3 linked regions of the Homo sapiens genome follow. The protein of the gene in region 1 interacts with the protein of each later gene in a pairwise test. Each region holds a gene or a part of one and is shown on either strand. Other genes may lie near its edges.

Region 1 (3,500 bases):
TCACATATTGGGTTCCTGGAGAGTCCTTGCATCACCAGCTGTCTCCTGAAGGAGTTGAGACAGTTGCTAAACCAGGCCCAAACCAGGCATCTGATGGTGAGATTACCCCATTGGTGGTTCACCCCTAACTAGAATCTTTTTTTTTCTCTGAGAAAGATTTTTGCTGTCACCCAGGCTGGAGGACAGTGGCACAATCATGGCCTACTGCAGCCTCAGCTTCCCTGAGCTCAGATGATCCTCCCACCACAGCCTCCCCAGCAGCTAGTGTGCACCAATATGCCCTGCTAATTTTTGTACTTTTTGTAGAGATGGGGTTTCGCCATGTTACCCAGGCTGGTCTTGAACTCCTAGACCCAAGTGATCCACCCACCTCAGTCTCCCAAAGTGCTGGGATTACAGGTGTGAGATACCATGCCCGGCCCTAACTAGAATCTTGAATTTTTTTGTATGTCATTTAGCAAATGTATGTTAAGTACTTGTGAACAACTAGTTGTCAAAATTCCTGTGAGCTAGCACAGGAGATAAGCAGATGTGTATAATTACCATGCCAGGCATGCATAGACCAAGTGATACCATGTTCAGAAAAGTCTCAGTCTTTTAAGTCTTCCTTTTGCATTTTCTCCCTGATTTCTCATTTTGCAGCTGGAGACTTGCAGTTGGTGGACATGACTGGGTGGAGGTAGAGGGGAGGATTAGAGGCTGTGGCAGTAGAGAAGACAATGAATGTCTGCTGGTGGTGGGAAGCATCCTCTTTCAGTATTTATCCCTCTCAAGTTTCCTTTTAGACAGCAGTGTTTATGACCTTTTGACTGATGTTGTAATCAGAGTGGTCAAAGCAAATACCATGGATAGTTAAGCAGCTGCCATCAGCAGTAGGCTTGGAATGCCCAGCACTCAGTCTCTCATCCTGTGGTTATATTCAGAATCCTACCCAGTCTCATAGATTTCAATATCTTCTGTAGGCCCGTGACCCCCACATTTATATCTCTAGTATAGCCTTCCCCTCAGCTGTAAACTGAAGATATCCAGCTGCCTCCTTGATATTTCTACTTGTGTCCAAAAGGAATCATTAACTTAACCTGTCCAAAATCAACTCCTGCTATGCATCCTAGTCTGCTCTCTGTAAGTAAATGGCATCTCTGTCCTTCTAGTTACTTAAGCCAAATGCCATGCAGTCTTCCTTTATTCTTCTATTTTCTTTCATGCTTACATTAGAATCGATCACCAAATTCTGCTTTATCTGCTTTTGCACTATCTATCTTCAGAGGCTGACTGCTTCTCACTACTTCTATGGCTACTACCCAGGTCCAGGGCACCATCATCTTTCGCCTGACTTCCTACAGTAGCCTCCTGCTGCCTGGTCTCCATATTTACATCCTTACTACCCACTATGTTCTATTCTCAAAACTGTAACTAGGGGGATCCTTTTAAAACATTAAGTGAGGTCAAACTCTGCTCAGATTCTTTCAAAGACTACCTATCTTACTCAAAGTAAAAGCCAAAGTATAATGGCCTGCAAGGCCCTGCACATAGTGTGGAGCATCTGTGGTTCTGTGGTTTTGTATTAGTTGCTCTCTGGATTCCTAACTATTCCTCTAATGCATCAAGTGTGTTTCTCAAGACCTTTGCATTTGCTGCTGTATTTGTTTATAGTATTCGCTTAGATATTCACTTGACTTGTCCCTCACTTCTTGCAGGCCTTGACATAAATTTCACCTTCTCAGTGTGGCCTTTTTTGACCACCTTCCATAAAATAACACCTACCCAATCCTTTTTATCCTGTTTTATTTTTCCTTATATCCCCTACTGCCATTGTGTGTATTGTATATTATTTATTGTCTCCTCCTTCTAGAATCTAAGCTTCAAGCCCTAGCCTTTTGTTGTTGTTACTCTTGTTCTTTACTGGGTGTTGCTTAAACCGTTAGTTTGAATTAAAATATGTAACTGATGGAAACGGTTCTCCCTTAGTCCAGATGATGTATTTTTCATTCCATTTACAGTTTTATTCTGTTGGTGCCTAGAAATGAGAAATTATATGAACTTTTCTTCCTAAAAATGAATATTAAATGATTTGTTTGTCTTAAAAAAATAAAAGTCAGCCAAGTGTGGTGGCATGAGCCTGTAGTACCAGCTGCTTAGGAGGCTGAGGTAAGAGGATCACCAGAGGCCAGGAGTTTCAGGCCAGCCTAGGTGACACAGTGAGACCCTGTCTCTAGGGGAAAAAAAGGAAAAAAAAAAAAGTTGATAATGCTTAATAAAGAAAACTTGGAAAATAGAAAGCCTTTACATACAAAGCTAGTGTTTATGGAGTGCTTACCTGCCAGACACTGTTCTAATAAGCATTTTATGTGGATTCACTCAGCTAAAAAATGACAAATTACCTAAATTTCACTCCCCTTCACAAGGTAACTTGTTTACTTATTTTGGACCTGAAACTTTTTATTGAAGAATAAACTTACAGAAAAGTGCATATATGTATACAGCTGGCCCTCTGTAGTCATAGATTCTCCATCTGTGCATCCAAACTAAAGTATTCGAAAAAAATTTTGTCCATACTGAACATGCACAGACTTATTTTTCTTGTCATTATTCCCTAAACGTTTAGTACTGTGTAACAACTATTTACATAGCATTTACAATGTATTAGGTATTAATAAGTAATATAGAGATGATTTAAAGTATGCAATGATTTAGGTTATATGCAAATGTTATACCATTTTATATCAGGGACTGGAACATCTGCAAATTTTAGTATCCTAGGGAGGTCCTGGAAGCAATCCCCCATGGATACCAAGGGATGACCGTACTTGTGATATCATGATTCAGTGTAGTGAAATTTTAAATATAACTAGCACCTAGATCAAGAAACAGCATGTTAATAATACCCTGACATTTCCCTTGTGTGTCCTTCCAGAAACTACCCCTCCTTTCTCCAAGAGTAACTACTATTCTGACTTATAGCTGCATAGATTGGTTTTGCCTGTTTTTATACTTTATATAAATGGAATCACAAAGAATGTACTCTTGGGTGTGGCTTCTTTTGCTCAACTTTATGTTTGGGAGACCCATTCATACTATTTTATATAGCTGTGGAGAGTTCTTACTGTTACAGAGTGTTCTGTTCAGTGCTCCACAACATCTAGTCTACTGTTGATACACATTTGAGTGGTTTCTAATTTGGGGCTATTACAAACAATGCTGCCACATCATTCTAATGTGTCTTTGGCAAATGTTTATAGGTTATCTGTTGTGTGTATATGTAGGAGTTGGGCCAGAGGATATACATATGTTCCATTTTAGAAAATACTGTCAAATTGGTTTCCAAAGTGGTTTTCTATACTCCCACTTGTAGTGAGGGAGAGTTTTTCATCTTAGCAACTTTGGTGGGTGTGTAGTGGCTTTAATTTGCATCTCCCTGATGATGATTACTGCAATCAAGAGGCTTTTTGCATATTCATTGGCCATTTGGATATCTTTTTGTGAGGTATCTGATCAAGCAT
Region 2 (3,500 bases), on another chromosome or scaffold:
AAGACCTTTTATTTTACAGATTGCCAATATATCCCTTATTAACATTGCTAAAAGTTGTAATTTCAGACATAAATGTTTATTAGTGTCTACACACAGTGCTAATTATCACTCACTCACAGAGCCAGATGCTGACTGTGCAGTTTTGTGGCTCTGCGCTCACCCCATTTACATTGCATATTCGTTGGCATGCTTCACTGGCAATAGTTTGTGTAATTGGGGTATTACATCTTTGACATCTGGATAACAGAAATTCAATTTCCAGGAAGCTGCTATTTGTTTGGTTTTGCTTCTGCCTTGGGTGGGATAGAGGATTAATGTGCTGTCTTATAATGTCCCTTCACCTCTGTGGCCCAGTTGCTAATCCTGCCATGACAAAATTAAATTAAATCTACAGTCAAAAAGCATAAGGAAAATAAAAGTGTGACTGTCTGCCTAACCAGCTCTTGATAGTGCTAGTTATCATCAAGCAGCTCCTCATTTTCCTGACTTTGTGCTCCTTTCACACCAGCATTTTGGGACAGGGGGAACAGCATGCTTTCCTCTTACCATCCTTGTTCCCAGCTCACGTCAGGGATGAGCAGAGCTAAAACAGCATTTCTGAGACTTTCCAGCAAGTGTAGCTGCATGATGGGTGGGTAGGTAGCCACAAACATTGCCACCTTTTCCATGTGCAGTGTTGGTGCAAATACTGTACAGGAAAGACTTTGGATGTGCAGTTTTTTATTTGCACACAATCAGCCAAAAATGAAACCACGTAAGATTTTGCCTCTAAGAGTGAAGTACCCATAAGGTCAGGGTGGAGAGTAGATGGTGGCGTTGGGCCTCAACCTTGTCCATCTTGGACCTCTGCAATCCCAGGTAGCAGGGTGAGGGCACAGCACTGCACAGCAAGGAAGCAGAACATGAGAGAGGTCAGAGCGAGAACGATTACAAGCAAAGCCACAATTACCCCATCAAGGGGGACTTCAGGTAGCAGGACTGCTGCTCAGACCCGGTGTGGGTCAGCCTTCAAACGAAGCTCTCGCCAGGATCTCTCTGGTTTTGCTTTGAGGGATAGAAAGGGTGGGTCGGGATGCATTGGGAAGAAGTCAAATATTAATATATACTTTAAGAGGAAAAATAGGAGGGAAATGTCAGCATTTCTTACATGAGCGATCATTGATAGCACATAGATCTTTCTGCTGAGGGAAAGAATATCACTGGGGCCAGCACTGCTCCCAGTACCTGTTTACTGTTAAGAGAGCTAGGAGCCAAAAGGTTAATAATCAAGTGAAATGCTGTGGCCCAGAAAGAGAATATTCTTGGATTCTAGTCTTTCCAGTCCCCTAAACTTGGTCAGTTGGAATTCTTTTTTTTTTTTTTTTTTTTTTGAGACGGAGGTTCACTCTTTTTATCCAGGCTGGAGTGCAATGGCATGATCTCGGCTCACTGCAACCCCTGCCTCCCAGGTTCAGGCGATTCTCCTGCCTCAGCCTCCTGAGTAGCTGGGATTACAAGCACCTGCCACCACGCTTGGCTAATTTTTTGTATTTTTAGTAGAGACAGAGTTTTACCATGTTGGCCAGGCTGGTCTCAAACTCCTGACCTCAGGTGATCCACCTGCCTCAGCCTCCCAAAGTGCTGGGATTACAGGCGTGAGCCACCGTGCCTGGTTGGTCAGCTGGAATTTTGTATTATCAAAGTACCACTCTATATAGCCATTCGAAATAACGAATTTACCCTTTAGTAGAAAATTTACGTTCACCATACAAAGGGAACATCATGTCCTTGATTTAGTTCTCCAGCAAGGCAGGCTTTCCCGCACTTTCTGTTGTGTACTACTAGAAAAGTGGTAAGGTCACTACGAAGGAAGTGAATTGTAAGGATAAGAGAGGGGAAGCTGAAGAGCAACAGGATGCTAGTGCCCAGGATTCAGTAAGCTGGAAACTCCCAGAGATGATAGACGTTGTTGCTTTTCTTCTTCCTAGTCCAAGTTGAGGAAGATGCAAGAATTCCAATGAAGGACCAGGCTTGAGATAGATACGCTTTCAAAGTGGTTGCTCCAGAAGGCCTTCAACATCAAGAGACAAAAGATTGAACAGCCTGGGAGTGTGCTGTGGGTTATTTTCAATCTTTTGCTCATTCTTGGGTCATCATGTAGTTGGTTCCCAAATAACATTTTTATTTTGTGATCTCTAGGTCAGTTAAGAAAAAATAACAGAAATTGTCACAGCAACATGATTTCTGGAGCAATTGAGAATAGTTACTGATGGCATCTGAGAGTAGGAATTTTTTGTTGACAGTGTTATAGTTTATAGTTTTATAGTTACACTTTTCAAAACATAAAGATTTCAATTATGTTTATTTTATAAATTGCTAAAGCCTGTCCATAAAGATGTAGAATTATATGGGAAGCTTATGACATCCAAGGGGGTTTGGTACCAAAATACTAGAACTCTTTCCCCTATAACAAAGTACTGACACACTGTCCCAGGGATGGTCTATAGGATTTTCTACATTCAAACATATGTGTTCCCTTTAATAGTATCTGCATCTATAAGATCAAAGTTTATGTTCTAGGTGAAAAAGAGTCTTCTAGAATGTGGCAGAGGTTCCCACATCAAGTCTACCTCTCTGGAACATGTTTAGGCTGTTAACGAACGTAGTGTATCTCACATGGTAGGGTAGCTCAGTAGTGTAAATGGCTTGGCCTCGTGCTTTAGGAATTACTCACATATTTTTAATTGGATAATAGGGTCAGAAGACGTTACTTTACCCTGTGGACATTGACTTTCTCAAGCTGGCTGTGATGGGACTACAGTGAAGATTTAAGCACTGTTTGAAAGGAAACAGTTCTCTTAAATCAGTTCAGCCAGTGTCTTTATAGAAGATACTCTGAACTCAGCACTTTTCTGGAATGGGAGTGGGGTCAGAGATAGTCACAGAAATGGATAGGACAGGGACCTTGTTCTCAGGGATTCAGATCCAGCTGGGGAGGAGACAGGACAAATTCAGGAAACGGAGCAGTATTCAGCAATCGTAAGAGCTACAGTTGTTTGAGCACTTAACTGTGTGCAAGGCAGCACACTGAGCACTTTACATGAAAGACCTGATTTGCTCTTTGCAGCATGTCTGTATGAGTTACCGTCATCCCCATTTTGTAGATGAGCCTAGAGATGTCGAGGTGACCTGCCCAAGGTCTCTCAAGTAGGAAGTGCCACAGGTAGGGTTCCAGTGCAGGTCTGTCTGAGCTTTGAACACTCCACTTAACCGCCTGTCTGTGAACGGTAATTAAATGACAAATGTGAATGATCAGGGCAACAGCAAATGCAGAGTTGGAAGGGGTAGAGGGGAGGGCTCTGCAAAGCAGAGATGTTGAACTACAGGAAAGATTCGCTCCTGTATTTCTCCTCCCTGGAGAAGATTCCAGGTGGGAAGGGTGAGGGAGCCGCCAATAAGCATCATTATAGCTCGACCATGAGTGTTGCACTTATGGTTTAGAAAGTGCTTTCACATCTGTC
Region 3 (3,500 bases), on another chromosome or scaffold:
AATGTCCAGAATAGGCAAATCTGTAAAGACTGAAAGTAGATTCGTGGTTGCCTAGAGTTGGGGGATTTGGGAGGGAAATGGAAGGGGGGCTGCTAATGGGTACAGGGTTTCCTTGTGGAGTGATGAAAATGTTTTAAAATTTATTGTTTTGATGAAATATATTTAGTTTGTTTGTTTGGAGACAGAGTCTTGCTCTGTTGCCCAGGCTGGAGGGCAGTGGCATGATCTTGGCTCACTGCAACTTCTGCCTCCCAGGTTCAAGCGATTCTCCTGCCTCAGCCTCCCGAGTAGCCGGAACTACAGGTGCACACTGCCACACCTGGCTAATTTTTTTGTATTTTAGTAGAGACGGGGTTTCACCGTGTTGCCCAGGCTGCTCTCGAACTCCTGAGCTCAGGCAATCCGACCACCTTGGCCTCTCAAAGTGCTAGGATTGCAGGAGTGAGCCACCACGCCCAGCCTGTGAAATATGTTTCAATAAAGCTATTATAAAAAAGGTATCATTTCTATTCTCAATTACTACTTCAAATCTTCTGTCCAAGAAATTCCTTTTTATCCTTGGTAATAACTATCTAACACTATGTTCACCTAGACATAACCATCCTTACTCTAGTGAAAACTTTTGTGTGAATGACCATCTGGTGTTGAGTGTATTTGCTTAAAGATAACATCATATTCATGTAACTTTTACAATTCTAAAAAATATGAATAGCAAATACAAACTTTGACAGAGCAGAAAACCTGTAAGAATTTAAATATACCAACAGTGTGCGACTTTTTTTTTACTGAAAAATAAATCAGAAAAAAATGAGAATGCATGCTTCCTATATTTCATGGGGCTGAAGCAGATATGCTAATATTACATTTTAATAGGGACTTCTTGCAATGCTGCAGTGAACACATTCTCTGTAAAGAATTGCAGGTTACACAATAATATGTTAACGCATTCTGGAAGGGAACTTTTTCTTCTTACCTATTCAGTGCAAATGCATAATGAAACTTCACATGGTGATGGGAGGCCAAATCAAAGGTTGGCAGTTTTTCTAAAGTCTCTACCAGCTTCACAATAGAATCATAGTCCTTTCAAATTAGATGAGAATAGCACAGAATTAAACCATTAGGAGAAAATTCTCACAATAACGTGTCTTTTGACAACCAGATATCTGAATTCAAGAAACACATTAAAAAGACACTAGAATCCACAGAACACTTTGAAGAACCTAGAATAAACAGTTTTTGTTGTTTTTCTTCTAAAAGGTTTAGATCGTATATATAAAAACATTAGAAACATACAGTTACCATGTTGAACAAAAACTAAAAAAGCAAAAGAAACAAAAACACCAAGCATGATAGTGCTCTACTGTCTAAATATGGGTGATTTATTTCCCCATAGAGCCAGATTCCCGGTATGCAGTGTTCTAACAATTTCAGGGAAATAAAAATGTCAAGGACATGAGGCAATGGGTTGAACTTCTGTTACAAGTAGCAACACAGTTTCATGTCACATGAGTAAGCACTCTAGCCACAGGATCCTATGTGCCACAGCCCTCCATGGATGTGAGTCTGTCTTGAGCACATGAAGCCTTTACACAGACCTGAAAGGCTAGGAATGGAAAGGAGAAACCAGATGTCATTTAAATTTTACTATTAAAACCTAAGAGCAAATCCCTAACTTGGAGAGGATTTTATTCCACTTACCCTATTTTTAAAATTTTAAGACATGTCAATAAAAATGATATAACCTGTTAGTGTGTTTTACATTACATATTTTTAAAGTTATTTCTGTAGGTAATCAATTACATATTTTTTCCTTCAGGCGAGTTAGATTCAGCACTATCAATTTCAAGCAATACAATTTCAAGGGATAAAAGGTATGTCCAGAAAGCTCTAAAAATGTCTGCTATTTGCCAAAACAAAGCTTTCACTGACAGGTGTGCCTGAGGCTAACAGTAGAATAGACTGTGTCCACAGGTTCGCTGTGCCAGCAGATTTTTCTTTTTGTTCTTTTGGAGGAAAAAGTCAGGCCTTTACCATACAAGTCTTTCACAATCACTGATGGTTAACTCACATGAGTCTTTTTCATTCATCATAAAATTATAGGATGGAAAGCTTAAGAGAGTCAATAAAAAATTACGTGTAGTAACATGAACTGCTTACCAGCAAACTGAAATTTGAGGTTAATACTCCCTTATCCCTCCAACATGCTACACAACAAAGATTTCACTTTAAACATCTTCTCACCTGGATATCTCTGTAGGAAAGTAACAGATTTATGACAATATCTGCTGTCAAGACTTCGATATTATCTACTCGCTGCCGAATTCTTGCCAACTCAGCTGCCAATTCTTTACCAGTGTATAAATTACGAGCTTTCCTGATGTCATTGAGTATAGATTCCCGGAAGTACTGGCTGGTAAAAACACACACATTTCAAAGAGTTTGACATTAGAAACAATTTCAATGAAAAGCAATAATTTTAATAAAGACATGAATGATATTGCAGCATTAGCTATAAAGCATTTGTAGTTTTCAGTTCATTCAGATGCCTAAATAAATATCTTACATATCTGGCATTATTAAGAAATTTAGAAGCCAATGTATTTCTTTTATTACTCTGCCTTCAGAAAGAATTAAAGGTAAAGGTACTCCATATTAATAAATTTTCCTGCAAAAAACCACTTAAAATGCCAAAACTTTGTTTTCCATTTTACTGTTTCCAGTACAAATTGTTCTAAATAAATTAGATGTACCTATGATTTTTTGTTTGTTTGTTGTTTTTGTTTTTGAGACAGAGTCTCACTCTGTTGCCCAGACTAGAGTATACTGGCATGATCTTGGCTCACTGCAACCTCCATCTCCTGGGTTCAAGCAATTCTCTTGCCTCAGCCTTGTGAGTAGCTGGGATTACAGGTGTGCACCACCACACCTGGCTAATTTTTGTATTTTTGGTAGAGACAGGGTTTCGGCATGTTGGCCAGGCTGGTCTCGAACTCCTGATCTCAAGTGATCTGCCCACCTCGGCCTCCCAAAATGCTGGGATTACAGGCATGAGCCACGGCACTGGCCGTGATGTACCTATGATTTGAACATAATATAACCTTAACTTCCTGACTCAGCCTATCATTTATTAACATAAATAATTGTTCTTCACTGAAAGAACAATTAGAGTTAAGAGTTAATTAAAGTTGAATTGTTCTTGCCCTTACACTAGAAGTCCCTGGACATTTATCCTGGTATTGTTTCTGTACTTGCTTTGTATATATTTTTAGTTCTACCATCACTATAAAGCGGTTAGTAGACTTTTTAATTTTTTGCTGATTTCAAGTTGCTGTTCTGTGAATAAAATGTATTATGTGGCATCTATTTTATCTACTTGGAGGATAATAAACATTTTCCCCCTAGTTCTTAGCTGTATACTGATATCTCAGGAGCACCTGATATCATGCACAAATAAAGATGTAGAATAACACTTTATTGTCATCACCAAATGGCATTATTAA

Evidence for each region. The genes of interacting proteins can lie anywhere in the genome.
Region 2: the proteins of ZNF622 (region 1) and BEND7 interact in binary tests that used the Homo sapiens proteins (3 or more experiments, as listed by UniProt).
Region 3: the proteins of ZNF622 (region 1) and MAP3K5 interact in binary tests that used the Homo sapiens proteins (3 or more experiments, as listed by UniProt).

Annotation. Positions count from the first base shown.
Region 1 is NC_000005.10:16,459,301-16,462,800, reverse strand, and holds part of ZNF622 (cytoplasmic 60S subunit biogenesis factor ZNF622), read left to right. Parts: intron 1-3,500. UniProt on the Homo sapiens protein: Pre-60S-associated cytoplasmic factor involved in the cytoplasmic maturation of the 60S subunit.
Region 2 is NC_000010.11:13,522,515-13,526,014, reverse strand, and holds part of BEND7 (BEN domain-containing protein 7), read left to right. Parts: intron 1-3,500.
Region 3 is NC_000006.12:136,694,978-136,698,477, forward strand, and holds part of MAP3K5 (mitogen-activated protein kinase kinase kinase 5), read right to left. Parts: intron 2,411-3,500; coding exon 2,242-2,410; intron 1,081-2,241; coding exon 974-1,080; intron 1-973. UniProt on the Homo sapiens protein: Serine/threonine kinase which acts as an essential component of the MAP kinase signal transduction pathway. Plays an important role in the cascades of cellular responses evoked by changes in the environment.